Linked DNA regions of Homo sapiens: region 1 is linked to region 2. Evidence: fine-mapped expression QTL. A gene starts in region 2. The other region holds a variant in brackets. All regions are shown on one strand. Distances are from middle to middle. Region 1 has its middle 5.8 kb from the start of KEAP1. Region 2 holds the start of KRI1 (KRI1 homolog).

The links. PIP is the estimated chance that this variant, and not a neighbour inherited with it, causes the effect. A credible set is the group of variants that fine-mapping cannot tell apart.
Region 1: its variant is the best candidate, but not a certain one, in a credible set for the expression of KRI1 in whole blood (TOPMed, PIP 0.77).

What each region holds. Positions count from the first base shown.
Region 1 is chr19:10,507,741-10,510,645 of GRCh38, reverse strand. No RefSeq gene overlaps it. Among named protein-coding and RNA genes, the nearest start is that of KEAP1, 5.8 kb to the right of the region's middle. The variant C/G (reference allele first, on the strand shown) is at 1,747.
Region 2 is chr19:10,564,217-10,567,121 of GRCh38, reverse strand. KRI1 (KRI1 homolog) reads left to right here and starts at 1,112. Exons shown (of 19, transcript NM_023008.5): 1 at 1,112-1,216; 2 at 1,332-1,405; 3 at 2,088-2,193. The coding sequence starts at 1,123. It overlaps CDKN2D (cyclin dependent kinase inhibitor 2D), which reads left to right. Exons shown (of 2, transcript NM_001800.4): 2 at 1-662. The coding sequence ends at 64. RefSeq lists a silencer at 842-1,371 and enhancers at 872-1,439, 1,642-1,691, 1,440-2,007.

The DNA of each region.
Region 1 (2,905 bases), 56 kb after region 2:
GTATCTGACCCCTCCAGATGGGTCTGGCAAGGCTATGCCAACAGTCCCTCCCACGGGGGTCTGCATTCATGGTTGGAACGATGCCAGGGCGCCGTTTGTGCCCATAAAAGGCTCCAGACGTGCTGGCCCCTGCCCCCGGCATGTCCCCAGGCGCATTCTTGACCCCTGAACGGCTGGATGGGCCCTGGGGCCGGGTTGGGGGGCGTCTGGCTTCGGGTTCAGACTGCAGCGCTCCACCTTCCGGGAAACCTTGGAACTGCAGGCAACCTCAAAAAAAGCGGTGTTTTGGGGACAGGTGTCCCAGACTGGGGGGACCCCAAGTCCCTGCTGGCCACGTTCAGAGTGCCCCTGGAGGCCACACACACGGGAAACCAACCAGTTGGAACACAGGCACACTTGCTTATGAGTTTTCTAGAAAATTTAAAAAGCATCCAGTTCAGCCAGGCGCAGTGGACTCATACCTGTAATCCCAGCACTTTGGGAGGCCGAGGCGGGCGGATCACCTGAGGTCAGGAGTTTGAGACCAGTCTGGCCATCATGGGGAAACCCCGTCTCTACTTAAAATACAAAATTAGCCGGGCATGGTGGCGTGCACCCGTAATCCCAGCTACTTGGGAGGCCAAGGCAGGAGAATCACGTGAACCCAAGAGGCAGAGGTTGCAGTGAGCCGAGCTCATGCCATTGCTCTTCAGCCTCGGCAAAAAGAATGAAACTCCATCTCAAGAAAAAAAAAAAAGCACGCAGTTCCCCTTCCTTGTGGCGATCACAGTGGGACTCCTGGGGACCTTCCAGAGCTAGTCTGTGGATTCACCTTGCCAAAATGAAATGTAAATACACCTCCTGTCTTTTTGTACAAATTTATCACTGTTCTGCATGTTGCTTTGTTGACTTAACAGTATATCTTGGCAGGGCATGTTGGCTCACGCCTGTAATCCTAGCATTTTGGGAGGCTGAGGCAGAAGGATCATTTGAGCCCAGTAGTTGGAGATAGGCCCACACAACATAGGGAGACCCAGTTTCTAGAAATGATTCAAAAATCACCCAGGTGGGCCGGGCATGGTGGCTCATGCCTGTAATCCCAGCACTTTGGGAGGCCAAGGCGGGAGGATTACTTGAGGCCAGGAGTTAGATACAAGCCTAGCCAACATGGTGAAACCCCGTCTCTACTAAAAATGCAAAAAATAGCCAGGCGTTGTGGCAGGTTCCTGTAATCCCAGCTACTCAGGAGGCTGAGGCATGAGAATTGCTTGAACCCAGGAAGTAGAGGTTGCAGGGAGCCGAGATCATGCCACTGCACTCCAATCTGAGTAACAGAGTGAGACACTATCTAAAAAAAAAAAAAAAATCACCCGGGCACAGTGGCACATGCCTATGGTCCCAGACACTGGGGAGGCTGGAGTGGGAGGATCGCCTGAGCCTGGGAGGTCAAGGCTGCAGTGAGCTATGATTGTACAATTGCACTCCAGCCTGGGTGATACAGCAAGACCTGTCTAAAAAATTTTTTTGAAAAGTATATCTTGCAAAAATATTGCACACCCACACATTTTCTTGTTTGTTTGGTTTTTGAGATAGGGTCTTGCTGTGTTGCCCAGGCTGGAGTGCATTTGACACAATTATGGCCCACTGCAGCCTCCACCTCTCAGGCTCAAGCAATACTACTCCTGCCTCAGCCTCCCGTGTAGTAGCTGGGACCAAATATCCCCACACCACACCTGGCTCACAACCACAGAGCTCAAAACCACAACA[C/G]AGCTCACAACCACACACAGCTAATTTTTTTTTTTTTGAGGCTGGTCTCAAACTCCTGAGCTCAAGTGATTCACCTGCCTCGGCCTCCCAAGTGCTGGGATTACAGACATGAGCCACAGCGCCTGGCAATACCCACACATTTTGTAATGTCTTGCTCTTAGTCAGCTTGGACTGCATAACAAATACCCTAGATGGGGTGGCTTAAGTCCCAGTAATTACTTTTGCATCGTTCTGGAGGGTAGGAAGTCCAATATCAGAATGGCAGCCTGGGGCCGGACACTGTGGCTCACGCCTGTAATCCCAGCACTTTGGGAGGCCCAGGCAGGCGGATCACCTGAGATCAGGAGTTCGAGAACAGCCTGGCCAACACGGTGAAACAGCTGTCTCTACCAAAAATACAAAAAAAAAATTAGCTAGGCGTGGTGGCAGGTGCCTGTAATCCCAGCTACTGGGGAGGCTAAGGCAGGAGAACTGCTTGAACTCAGAAGGTGGAGGTTGCAGTGAGCTGAGATCGCGACATTGCACTTCAGCCTGGATTACAGAGCGAGACTCTGTCTCGGAAAAAAAAAAAAAAAAAAAAAAAAAAAAAGGCCAGGAGCAGTGGCTCGCGCCTGTAATCTCAGCACTGAGGCCGAAGCAGGTGGATCACGAGGTCAGGAATCTGAGACCAGCATGGCCAACATGGTGAAACCCCGTTGCTACTAAAGATACAAAAAATTACCTGGGTGTGGCGGCATGCGCATGTAATCCCAGCTACTCCGGAGGCTGGGGCAGAAGAATCGCTTGAACCCAGGAGTCAGGGGTTGCAGTGAGCGGAGATCACTCCACTGCACTCCAGCCTGGGCGACAGGGCGAGACATGGTCTCAAAAAAAGAGAATGTCAGCATGGTTGTGTTCTAGTGAGGACTCTCTTCTGAGCTTGCAGACAGCCGCTTTCTCACTGTGTTCCCACATGTTGGGGAAAGAAACAGAGAGCAGGTCGGGCGAGGTAGCTCATGACTATAATCCCAACACTTTGGGAGACTGAGGCAGGTGGATCAACTGAGGCCAGGAGTTCAAGATCAGCCTGGCCAACATGGTGAAACCCCATCTCTACTAAAAATACAAAAATCAGCTGGGTGTGGTGGCACACATCTGTAACTCCAGCTACTCAGGAGGC
Region 2 (2,905 bases):
ACTGCAGAGAGGGGCTCAGGACCTCGTGGACATCCTGCAGGGCCACATGGTGGCCCCGCTGTGATCTGGGGTCACCCTCTCCAGCAAGAGAACCCCGTGGGGTTATGTATCAGAAGAGAGGGGAAGAAACACTTTCTCTTCTTGTTTCTCCTGCCCACTGCTGCAGTAGGGGAGGAGCACAGTTTGTGGCTTATAGGTGTTGGTTTTGGGGGTGTGAGTGTTTGGGGGACGTTTCTCATTTGTTTTTCTCACTCCTTTTGGTGTGTTGGACAGAGAAGGGCTCCTGCAGGCCACAGCCACCTAAACGGTTCAGTTTCTTCTGCGCCTCAGGCTGCTGGGGCCTCAGACGAGACCCAAGGGCAGAGCATTTAAGAGTGAAGTCATGACCTCCAGGGAGCCTAGAAGCTGGTGGCCTTGGCCGGCTGTGCTCAGAGACCTGAAGTGTGCACGTTGCTTCAGGCATGGGGGGTGGGGGGAGCGTCCCAAATCAATAAGAAGGTAGAATGAGTTATGAGTTATTCATATTCTGTTGGAAGCTTGTTTTCCAGTCTCTTGTACAGCGTTTTAAAAGAAATGGATTCTATTTATTATGCTTTATTGGAAAAAATGTTGTAATAATTTAATGTTTTTACCCATTAAATTAAGACTTGTGCATGATCACAGCACGGGTGGCTTCTGATTTTTGAGTCTGGGATGGAGAGTTACACATCCCGGATGTTGATGGGGATGAGGACGGGGGTCGCGGATCGTGGATGTGGTGGGTGAGGGGAGAGAATAGTAATTCCCAGGGCGCCAGGGTGAGTGAGCTGGGTGGGGCAGCGGTTTTCGCTGTCGGAACGGAAGGGAAGCAGGAAACCGCGAGTGGAGAAAGGGCCCCCAGATGTCAGCTGGGTGCCCGGAGCACAGGGGGTGGGGCGGGTGGGCGGTGGCCGCGGCCTTCCCCGCAGGGGCGTAGCCGTGGGCGGTGACTGCGGTGATGAGGCGAAAGGGATCCCGGAAAAGCCAGGGGCGGGGTTAGCAGCGGTACGCCTCGTTTACAAGTGGATGCGGGCGGGACTGAGGGCGGCCCCGCCCCGTCCAGGGCTTCCTCAATGCGCGTGCGCAATGGGCCACAGAACCGCCATGCCGGAACCGCGCGGGTCGTCGCAGCTGCGGGTGAACGCGGCGTTTGCCGCGCGGTACAACCGCTACCGGGAGCGCGAGGAACTGCAGCGGCGTGAGTGCGGGGCGCATGCGCGCGGGAGCCTGCGCGCGCCGGCCGGTTGGGAAGTGGGGAGTCGAGTGGCCCCGCCGGCTGACCTGGGGGGGGGCATCCCGTCTGTGTCCCGCAGTGAAGGATCGCTACGGGGACCGAGACAGCAGCAGCGACTCCAGCTCCGAGTCGGACTCAAGCGACGAGCGCGTGGTGCGCGTCCCCGCCCCGTCCTGGACGTGCGGAGGCGTCCAAGCCCCCCTCTGCACCCCGACCCCGATGTAGACGGGGGGGAACCCCCAACCCCAGAGCGCCCTGCGGGAGCGTCCCATCCTCCGCTCCCCATCCCATGAGGGACAGACAGTGCCCCCCCTCTCCCCAGGGGAGCCAAATCCCCGTTATTTTCTCTCCCCTGCCACGATCCCCACCTGCCCACTCTGATGTGTGGGGCGACTCTGTCCCCCAAGAACCCCCCCTTTCCTCTTTCATCCTCAAGAGTCTAGCCATTTTTTAGTGTACTCCTTGCGCCACGTGGGGCGCCCAACTTCTCACATCAGCCCTGATCCTGGCCCCACTGTGCGGCCTGGCCCAGCCCCTCCCCGCTGTCTCTCTTGTGCCCTCAGCCCACCTGCCCCTTGTCAAGTCTTTGTCTTCCCCAGGAATTACCTTCTCCTTGCCCCTCACCTTCCTCTACCCATATCCTGTACCTACCTGTGGCCTGCCCCTGCCCACCCCAAGAGGGCCCCTCTCCCTCCTGCTGTTTGACCACCTGTTTGACCTCCCCAGCCAGATCCACCCCCCTCCATCCTAATCCCTACGCTGAGCTCACCTGCTGGCGCCAGGGCTCTTATTATCTCCCTTCTGAAATCTATCCCCAACCCTTTTCCTGCCCTAGGAATTTGATCCCCAGCAGGAGCGGGACTTTTACAAAACGCTCTCCTTGTTGAAGAAGAAGGACCCCCGCATTTATCAGAAAGATGCCACCTTCTATAACAGAACAGGTCCGGGGCCACTCCTGTCTAAACCTCTCCTTCCTCTGGAGCAGAATCCGGGGTCCTTTCCTGACTGTGGATTCAGAGAAGTGACTTGACTTCTCTGAGCCTCTTTTCCTGTCTGTAAAGTATATCTAACGGTAGCATCTCCCCTCAGGGCTGTTTTAAGGATAGATTGGGATTTACCCAGTTTACACAGTTCATCTGTTTTGACTATTGAATGAATTGCTTCACAAGTCACAAGTCCTTAGCAGAGCCTAGGTTATTACCTGGTGGTGGAGTTAATGACTGTGTCCTTGGCACTATTCAAGGTGGGAATTGCTGACTGAATGATTCCAACTCCACCAGGCTGGGCAGGTGGTTCAAGCATCTAATCCCAGCACTTTGGGAGGCTGAGGTGGGAGGGTCAATTGAGGCCAGGAGTTTGAGACCAGTTTGGCCAACATAGCAAGACCCCATTTCTCTTTTTTTTTTTTTGAAATGGAGTTTCACTCTTGTTGCCCAGGCTGGGTTGCAATGGGACGATCTCAGCTCACTGCAACCTCCGTCTCCCAGGTTCAAGCGATTCTCCTGCCTCAGCCTCCTGAGTAGCTGGAATTACAGGCACGCGCCACCACGCCCAGCTAATTTGGGATTTTTAGTAGAGACAGGGTTTCTCCATGTTGGCCAGGCTGGTCTCGAACTCCCAACTTCAGGTGATCCGCCCACCCTGGCCTCCCAA